Linked DNA regions of Homo sapiens: region 2 is linked to region 1. The links come from fine-mapping of genetic effects on gene expression. A gene starts in region 1. The other region holds a variant in brackets. All regions are shown on one strand. Distances are from middle to middle.

Region 1 (5,397 bases):
AAAAAAAAAAATTAAGGCAGAATAATCATGTCCTAAATTTAAGTAGTACATTCTACCATGCCACAAAAATCTGTAATAAACAGAAAGTATGCCTATCTGTTTCATTTTACCTACGTGGGTGTGAAATGTATGGATTTAGCTTTTGCATAATGATAAAGGCCACCACCCCTCACAACATGTTGGTTTTAAAGTCACTGATAGACAATCTTATCCAAAACAACTCCAACCAAATCACCTACTAACTACAGTTACCACTTTAGTCCTGATGGTTTATGTAACACAAGTTAGCTCAGCTATAATTGCACTTCAATAAAAATATATCAAAGCTGGAAGAGGTTAGGAACTCAGGGTTTTAGTTGGTAGCATTACTACTAATAATAGTAACATAATAATAATAAGGCGAAGAACAACATTTCATGGAAATCTACAGGGAGAGATAACTTGGCAGTGTAAAGAGGGAGGCCTCTGTGTTCAACTATTACTGCCTCTGCTTAACTGTGTGACCCAGGCAAGGTACTGAACCTCTCTGTGCCTCTATCTCCTCGCTTCAGAAATGAGAAAAAGCCTAGCGCCTACCTCGCAAGCTGCAATCCCTGGCACACAATAGTCACTAAATCTTAACTGTTGCCAATAGTGTTATTGTTGTTGTTGTTGTCATTGTCACTTATTATTACTGCAATTTACAGAGAACTTTCACATACAATAGCTAATGACTATTAAGTAATAGCACAAAGAAATACTTAATTTAAAGGGTAATTACATCACATGTCAAGTATATGGGAAAGGGTATGATTTCCACCAGCATCCTTTGTGCTTGCCTTCTGGTTTGTCAGAAAGAGCCAGTCATATCTAAATTGTGATTGGATGGATGTAAAAGGAAGTAACAGACAGAGTAGTTAATAACAGCTAACATTTATGGAGTACTCACAATGTTCCAGATAGTTTATTCAGCATTTATATGCATTACCATTATTTAATCTTATTATAAATGTTACAGCTGAGGGATGGAGCCAAGCCAGGTTCCATAACCTTCCCAAGGTTACTGGGGAGTCAACCCAGGCAGGTTGACTTTGGAGGATGTGCCAGACCACTACCCTCCTGCCCAGGACTGACTTCCGTTAGAAAACAAACGTGCAAAACATTCTGATCATTTTGCTTATTATCAACAACAGAAACAACCAGTATTGTGCTCATCTCTCTAAATGAAGACACAGGCACATATTCACTTTACAGGAGTTACCCTTTCTCTGGACCAGCAATCCTCTTAGAACCGCTAATGAGGATCATCTAAATTCTCATCCCTGGTGAGCAACATTTTTCCTTGTACTTCTTGAATTCTAGCTTACATATTTAACATAAAATTATATGTTCAATCATTCAATAATTCTGGGATTCCCTTAAAGTGTAATATCAACCAATCCCAGTTACTAAAAAATGTCACAACAAAAATACCCCTTGCACTAATATCCTTGCACTAATATCAGGGTTCTTAGCAAGCAGGTCAGTAATCAACAAATCCTGAATTGTAAATAAATATTATATGCATATATATATATATATATATATATATATATATATGCATTTTCCTGTTCTGGAAGACAAGTCCATTCATTAGATTGTTCAGAAGGCCCCAAAATGTTAAAAAAATGACTATTCATTTAGATAGAGGGCCTCCCAAGACAAATTACATCATTATATTCATTTTAAAATCTTTGGGGGTTCTCAAATGGAATAAATACTGCAATTCAATGCCTTATGATTTCATGCCAGCGTGACAGCAAAACTCATAAGGGACAGGATTCTGGATTAAGAATGAGGAGACTTGCTCTAGCAGAAATTCTCTGTATAGGTGACCTTGGGGAAATCACTGAAAATTTCAGGACTTTGTTCCATGATCTGGAAAGTGACTGTGTTTTAAAAGGTGATTTCAGGGTTTCCCCCACAGCTCTATGACTCTATAACATAATAATACCACAGGTGCAATGCAAAATAAGACAAAAATTACTCCAGCCACTTACATCGCTAATGAGTTCCGTGCATTTTCTGGCCAATTCCATGCTTAAGTCTTCAATAACAGGCTTATAGAAGACCTATTTGAAAAAAAAGAAAAGAACAGAAAGAACATTTTTCTCATTGTCAATTTAGAGGAACAAACGCTGGTCTGAGTATGTGTTTTCTCACTCACCTGGTCTTCTTCATTTTCTTCTTCCCCTATCTTTTCTTCTTCAGTTTCATCTTTTATATCCTCAAATACAGGGACCCTCATTTTTACCCTTTAAAATATTTATATTTTTAAAATTTACTCATGTGGCGTCCTTTTCCATACCACAGTGCCCTTGAGATGCTGACGTCTCTGGTGCTCTGGCAGAAATGCCCTTGCCCAAGCCTCAGCCCTATTTAGCCCACACTTCACTCCTTATCTCAGTGGTGTGTGAGTGAACAGAAAAGGATCCCAGAGGTCTACCAGGCTGGCCTCACAAGTGGAAATAACATATTCTTAAGCAAAATTTGATTTTATGAACTTTTAAAGTCAACATTTTTTCCACTGGTTAAGAAATCCAAAAGAAAAAATTTATTTATCTTTTACTAATTCTATTCATTCATAAAAGAGCATAAAAAGGACTTAGAGATTCTGGGAAAACTACTCAGCTCTAACACTCAAGATAGCACAGTCCAAAGCCTGTTATCTCAAAGATTCCTTGTCTCTGTCTAAATAAAGCTTTCACTGGAATGTCAGACTTCCTTCTGACTTGGGGTAGTGAATCTGGATCATTCAAACTCATTTTGTCAACCTAAATTATATGTTTTATCAGACATACCAGTACTTCTCACATCCTAAAAAATACCCACTTTATATTAGCTGATTAGAGGCTACTTATTTATTATGAAAAGCCCTTTGAACCACTTCAAAGAATCTATTCTGAGTTAATTATGACTGTTAGTATTATACTGGCGAGTATGGTATTGTATTAATTGTAAACATCATTAAACATGAGAAGTTGCAGTTAACATATGTTGATACATAATTTAACAATTCTGGAAACATCGTTTCAAAAATCATCATCATCATCTTTGAATTCTGCAGTTCTACTCATCATGTCAATTTTTACAAAGTCATTGGTGATTTGCATTATTACTCAATGGGCACCCCACATTCAGAAAAGTTTGGAAAAATAAACCATCACAATATTTATAATGTAGTGTATGTCCTTGGTTACGTAAAACCAAGGTTAAAAAAAAATTTCTCAAAACAAATATTTTAATGTCAATTCAGGCAATTCCAAGACTCCCTACAACTCACAATTTATTAATCTGGTTATGTAAATCCTAGGGTAAATTAATTTTACCAAGTCATAGCACATTAGCATTGGGCATAAAAAATACCCTACACTGAATAGTAATACTGATGATACAAAATACAAATTTATTAAAAATAGTATGTCATTCTAAGTAGCCAAGCATAATTTTTTCTCTTGATATCATATCTAGTTTTCAATGTACTGTAAAAAAAAAATGCCTTGGCCTTACCTAAACTGAAAATCCTGACAAGAAAAACATTCTACACAGTCATCACGTATAAATTATTTCTGAAATTGTGTTCCATGAGGCAAAAGTTCCACAAAAGATTCTGGGGGAAAAAAGCAGGTTTCTTAAACAAATATGTTTGGGAAATCTGTACCCCAGTCTCTGTCCCTGCCACTTAGAGATCTACAAGGCATATTGACATACTAGAAGTTCTGAGAAGACCTTCAACCAAAAAACCTGCTTAGGCTTGCTTAACCTCGTGTTCCCCTGAACACAAACCTGTTTATCTCATCAAATCTAATCCAATTTAATCTAATCTACCTACCTACCTATCTACCTATCTTTTTTTTAATCATACCCACTACCCCAGAAAACTAACACTCCTCTGTGAAATATGACCGACTGCTTAGGGAAACATTGCTCTATTCTCCTAAAATGTTGTGTTCTAGAAGGAGCTGTTGGTCTTGAACTAGTTTTTGATACAGGCTAAATTAATGGTATCACATATCCTGTTCACCAACAAAATACCAAAAAGAAATTGCCTCAAGCATGCTGAACTTGGAAACCACAACTCTAAGATTACAGCCATATCATGCTGGCCCAGTGTAGTGGATTCCACAAGGACATTCCTTGTATATTTTATTTGTTCCGTAAAAGGAAAGAATGTGTGCATTCCAATTATTTCCCTCAAGTCCTCTGCTGGCCAGAAGACTATTCTAATATTCTATAGATCTATTACATTATCTTTATTTGGAAATAGGGAGGAGTAATTTCTGTAAACTTGTCTTGCAAATTTCTAGGAGTGTAGGGAGAAAATCTTGCCAAAACTGCCTGAGACACACCTTTTGGCTCATATTTGAGGAGACAGTACTGGTGTTACTCAGGGTGACACCTATTCCCCAAGGTGAATTACCTTCATCAGGCTTGCAGTGCAGTTATTTCTCATTTCCCATCACGTAATATGTTCTTAGGGACTCTTCACTGTGCTGCAAGAAAATAAGCTGTTGAGATTTAATGCACAAACTTTTGAAAACAAAAACCAAACACCACGTGCAATGTGAACACAAATTTTCCATTTGAGATTCTAGAATCAGAATTTCAAGCCAAAGGGATCCTTAAGAAATCAATACACCTAAAGCCCTCTCTTTCACAGATGACAAAATGAAGGCTATGAAAAATTATGTGTCTCATTTACAAAGCCATTCAATGAAGCACTAGGATCAGAACCTAACTAGAGACCTGTGTTCATTTGTTCAACAAATAAATGTTGTTATGCCAGGCACTGTGCTTGGTGTTAGAGATAGAATGGTGAATAAAATATTCTTCATACTAAGATAGAATTGGAAATAAAATACTCATCACTCAACACTTGCTGGATGAAGTCTTTAATGGATCGTTTGGCAAGCTAGAGACACCATTACTTTTGATTGAATACATCTTTTTTCCTCTCACCTATAATATAAAATTCATGCAAAGTTTTCTCTAAAAAAGTGTTAAGCCCTGCACTTCATCACAGCAAAGTTTTCTTGTCAGTAGCTCTAAAATATGACATGGAGAATATGAAGAAAGTGTTCCTCATGGACAGCTATCATGTTTCAAAATCCCCTATCGACTTTTCCAAAAACCAAGCTTAATGTATTTTAATAGATATTTTCACCTTGGGTTGCTCCAAAAGGCAAAATCTCTGTAGCTGCTCATAGCTTTTACTTATTGGGCACTTCTTTTATGTTGTTTACTTTTCTACTTTAGTACTCTACGCATGCCTTGATACAGAATGAGACCAAGAGACATCACTTATGGCTAAACTCTCAAAGTCCAGGTCTGGCTCTGCCATGTCCTCTAGGGCAAATTATTCAACCCCTCACTACCTCT
Region 2 (5,397 bases), 320 kb after region 1:
GCCATCTCCTCTTGAACAGAGATGCCAAACCCAGTTACGTCAACTTCAAAAACCCGTCTGAGTCCTTTTGTAAAGGTAAAATTTTGTTGTGACAAATGTTTGTTGTGTCAATGAAGTTGGCCATTGCCAAGGGAGATCCTTTTGTTGGGGAAGGATCCTCAAACCAGCAGTGATTGTGATGATGGAAACGGATCTGTCGTCATGGCTTCATTCATTCTCCAATGGTAATTGGAGAAGCACAGAATTTCTCACTCATGCTGAGGTCAGAAATCTTTCATAAATGACCTACCAAGTTACTATCAAGTGTGTTTGCTCTTATGTAATGCTAGTAAATACATTTCAGGGTTTTAAATCACTCAATTCTCTCTCTCTCTTCAGATATATATATCTATAAACATATGTACATATGTAAATGTTATGCATATATTATTATTACATATTATACAACTATTACACAGTATACATATAATATATACTATGTTAGATACAGTATATATACAGTATTATCGCTACATCTGAGTGACAACACTATATATACTACATATAATACTGTGTACAATATATGTATAATATGTCAGAAAGATAATACAAATATATGATTTATTATGTTACATATAATATACATATATAACAACTTGTAAATGTATATATATCTGTAATGTACAACACAATCTTTTTAATCTTTCAGGAAATTCACTGAAAATTAAACTGACAAACAAAGATTTCCCAATTAGTGCAATCCTGGCCCCAACTTTCCTTGCAAAGATTTCGAACACCCAGCGCTAACGTCTGGACAGCGCCTACCCCTCCTCAGAGTGATGGGAGGAAAGAAGGAAAGGCAAGCAACGGCTGAAAAGATGGAAGGAATAAACCAACACTCGTCATTTCTCAAGAGTTTGTGAAACTTCCCATTTTCTGTTAAGGAAGTAAATTACAGAAGCTTCGGTGAAAGGGGTGGAATCACCCGGTTCTTCAGCTTTGCTTAGCTTGTTGGATGACCAGGGACATCTTCAGATTTTTGTTACCACACCTGGCTCCTGAGCCAGGTCCTTCAGTGAGTGCTTTCCAAAGGCCCTGTGGCCACTTGCGACTTCCACTGGCTTCTCGTGTTTCGACACTAGTTTTATTTTTGAAATACTTGCCACTTTTCATCATAGGAAATAGCTGGCTTGACTACCGTTCTCACTCCTTTAGCTGCTGTGTCAATACTTCAAAACATTCAGTCAGTTAACTCGATTCAGTCAAAAATTGTCACAATGTTTAGCATTGTGTTGACAAAGCCTATGGCTTTGGAGAAAATACAGCTCATTAAGTTCTTAGTGATTCTTCATGGTGCAGAGCTACACGGTAGCAGCTACAAATGTAACCAGACCACCGTGACAAAACGAAGGCAATGAATTAATATCGGAGTGCTCACCATGTGCCAGGCACCGGTTGGAATTTAGCCATGTCTCATCTCACTTTATCTCACAATAACCCAAGCCCTTCAAGCTGATGGTTGCCCAAAGTTGGATTGAAATGATAGTTTATTATGCCATTTCTGTTTACTCACTAATACTCAAAGAATGCAGAAAAAGATAAGCTTGACAGGCAAATTTCAGTTGATGGTTCAGTTTCCTTGAACTTGTATTTGGTCTTGTTGCAGACTGATTTGACTCCCTTTAAAAAATCAGAATGTAGAGTGTCTGGGTTCCTGTGCCCAGAGAAAGGACATTAGAGAAGATTCAAAACAGATGGAGATGTAGAGCTGGTTGAGTGCAGGCGGAGGAAAACCGGAGAGGAGCGGAGGACGGGGGAAGCTTCAGTCTAAAGAACAGTGTCTATAAAATGCACTTTCAAAACAACACTGTCTGAATGCCTCCTTGTGTGCAAGTTACAGGGCTGACCAAGAGATTTTTAAGTAACCAGGAGAAGACACTAACTTTGCTAATGAATAGCCAGGAAGTGTTAATGAGGCATTCATGAAGATGCTCTCAGGACTTAGCAATGAGAATGTCCCGAGGCAGGGAACCAGGGCAGGAGAAGGCCTGGGGCGACCTGGGCTTGAGGAGTAGAGTAAATAGAGAAAAACCTTAGAAATGGGTTCTATAGCAGCCTTTAGCTATAATGTAAGTGGAGTTTATATCTTAAATAAATTATTCTATTTTTACTGCAAATATTCCTCTCTTAAAAGGACCAACGAATATCTACACATTATATACCTGCTCATCTTCCATGTTCTGTGCCCAGAGGAAGTCCAACAAGCTCGAGACACCACACATCATTTGCGAGGGAAAGGACAAGGTCTTCCTTAAAAGCAATAAACTGTGTCTCCTGGACTTTTATGTAAGTATCGGCTGGTAAAGGGAGTTGTCACAGACAATAGATTTTCCCCACAATTATAAAACTCAGCAGTTTTGTGTCTTGAATGATGATAATACAGACAGATAATTAAATCTTAACTTCTGTCTTAGTCTTCTTCAATTCTCAACAATGAATTGGTAATTTACTCATGAATTTCATGTATATATATGTATATAATATATATGTATAAGTATATGATATAGATGTATATATATCATATATGTATATCATGCACACACACAAAAGGCAAAGAAAAGTGCTTTCTATCTTATGTTTTTTCAAATTAAAAATTTGTATCTTGCACTTATTTTTAGTGGTATCAAATAAAGCATTCTTTGTACTTTCTGAAGATTTATTAAGACACTAGTAAGCCTTTATGCATTTGTGCTAAGGGAAAAAGGAAGAGAGGGAGGAAGGAAAGAAACAAGAAGAGAAGAAAGGAAAAGGATCTCCTCAGTATAACTACCCCATACACACATGGCACACACATGGCACACACATGCACACAC[A/G]CGCGCACATTACACACATGCACACACATGCACACATGCACATTACACACACATACACACATGCACACACATGTGCACACATTACACACACGCACACATGCACATTACACACACATATACACATGCACACACATGCACACATATGCACATTACACACACATGCACACATGCAAGATTGTTGGGTACAGTGAGGAAAGGGTTTTTCAGGTGCTTCTTTTTTAACTGCTAATTCATGGTATTTACAGAAAAGTCAGAAAATATATAGTATGTAAAAAGGGAAAAAATGGAAATCACTTTTAATTGAAGCTCCCAGAATTAATCATTGTCAGTATTTTTGGCTACACTCCTAATATTAGTGTCTTTAAAGAGAATATCCTGTGTTCTTTTAGAAAAGAATAGGAAATAAATTAAAGGACAGGCCCTGCTGTGTCTCTCTGCCCCCATCTCCTGGAATCTAGCTCCCTTTTCCCTGCCGGGGAGGAGCAATAAACTGTGAAGCCCTCCCTGTGCCACCTGCCTCACCCCACCCTGATCCCTCCGACCCCATGAAGAGATGTCAACTTCCACTTGGCCAGAGTTTTAAATCCACAAAACTTGAAGATTAGAGCGAAATAACTAAAATGAACTTTTAGTTTCTGTCTTCTTACCTAACATACAATTTGGTTAGATTTGCACAAATTAGTGGCATGTGGTGGCACGCACCTGCAGTCCCAGCTACTCAGGAGGTAGGGCAGGAGGATTTCTTGAGGCCAGGAGTTTGAGGCTGCAGTGAGCTATGATCACGCCACTGTACTTCAGCCTAGGTGACAGGGCAAGAGCCTATCTCTTTTAAAAAGAGTTTTTAAAAGATCTGCACAAATGAAGAATATGTGTTTGCAATGGGCTGTCTTATTATGGGCATTTCATGGTGCTCATAAAACTCACATTTGGGAGGATTCTCTGTAGCATCTGTATTCAGGGAGCAAATTAAGCAAAACAATACAAACTCATGAATGCAAAATGTAGCACAAAAGTAAATATTCAGAATGAGAAAAGATTTCACAACAAATAACATATCTTTTAAAACTAACAAATACTGCAAGTGCCACAAAAGGCAAAGAAAAAAATATAATCTGTTTATTAACTGGCTGACCCACTACCATAATATTTTCCACAGACTAGTTTTTTTTGTTTTGTTTTGTTTTGTTTTTGTTTTTGAGACAGGGTCTTACTCTGTCATCCAGTCTGGAACGCAGTAGCACAATCACAGCTCACTGCAGCCTCAACCTCCCAGGCTCAGTTGATCCTTCCACCTCAGCCTCTTGAGTAAATGGGACCATAGGCATGTGCCACCATGCTTGACCAGTTTTTGTTTTTGATTTGGTTATTTATAGAGACAGGGTCTTGCCATGTTGCTCAGGCTGGTCTTAAACTCCTGGGCTCAAGTGATCTTCCTGTCTCAGCCTCCCAAAGTGCTGGAATTATAGGCGTGAGCCACCGCACCTGCCCTCCCAAACTAGTTTCCAGCTCTACTTGTTCCTCCTTCACTTCCTACTTCCCAGCAGGGTCAGTATCCTAAGACAGGTTCACATCACAGTTCCGCCCCTGATTCTAGGCCGTCATTCATAATTCCAGTCAAGTTGCCACGGTATGCAGTAGGGTACTGCTGAAACCCATCCTACGTGGGAAAGCCAGCCACGAGTTGTCTACAGAGTGACTCTGAACCACCAGAACACATCCCACTAAACTCTCACTAAATATACACCCCCAACCTGACTTCCCCTTAGCCACATATCCAAGTGCCTGTGGCTACTTCAATGCCACCCAACTCAAGGAGAATTAAGACAAGGAGAAGTCAAAAGGGGAAGACACAGTGGTCCTAACCAGCTGCAATTAAAAGATCACACTTTTTGGCCGGGTGCAGTATCTCATGCCTGTAATCCCAGCACTTTGGGAGGCCCAGGCGGGAAGATCACGAGGTCCGGAGTTCAAGACCAGCCTGGCCAACATGATGAAAACCCATCTCTTGGGCCAGGCGCAGTGGTTCAAGCCTGTAATCCTAGCACTTTGGGAGGGCAAGGTAGGCGGATCATGAGGTCAGGAGTTCGATACCAGCCTGGCCAACACAGTGAAACCCTGTCTCTACTAAAGACACAAAAATTAGCTGGGCATGGTGGCACACACCTGTAGACCCAGCTTCTTGGGAGGCTGAGGCAGAAGAATTGCTTGAACCCAGGAGATGGAGGTTGTGGTGAGCCGAGATCGCACCACTGCACTCTAGGCTGGGCAACAAAGCAAGACTCCATCTCGAAAAAAAAAAAAGAAAAAGAAAAAAGAAAAGAAACACGAAAACCCATCACTACTAAATATACAAAAATTAGCCGGGTGTGGTGGCACGTGCCTGTAATCCCAGCTACTTGGGAGGCTGAGGCAGGAGAATCGCTTGAACCCAGAAGGTGGAGGTTGCAGTGAGCCAAGATCGCGCCACTGCACTCCAGCCTGGGAGACAGAGCAAGACTCAGTCTCGAAGAAAAAAAAAAATCATACTTTTGCTAATTTTACTAAA

The links. PIP is the estimated chance that this variant, and not a neighbour inherited with it, causes the effect.
Region 2: its variant is fine-mapped to the expression of NEBL in neutrophils (CEDAR, PIP 0.95). The same link has a PIP of 0.9 or more in monocytes.

What each region holds. Positions count from the first base shown.
Region 1 is chr10:20,894,940-20,900,336 of GRCh38, forward strand. It overlaps NEBL (nebulette), which reads right to left and starts at 2,372. Exons shown (of 28, transcript NM_006393.3): 1 at 2,186-2,372; 2 at 2,019-2,090. The coding sequence starts at 2,266.
Region 2 is chr10:21,211,631-21,217,027 of GRCh38, forward strand. It overlaps a transcript of NEBL not described here. Among named protein-coding and RNA genes, the nearest start is that of NEBL-AS1, 40 kb to the left of the region's middle. The variant A/G (reference allele first, on the strand shown) is at 2,853.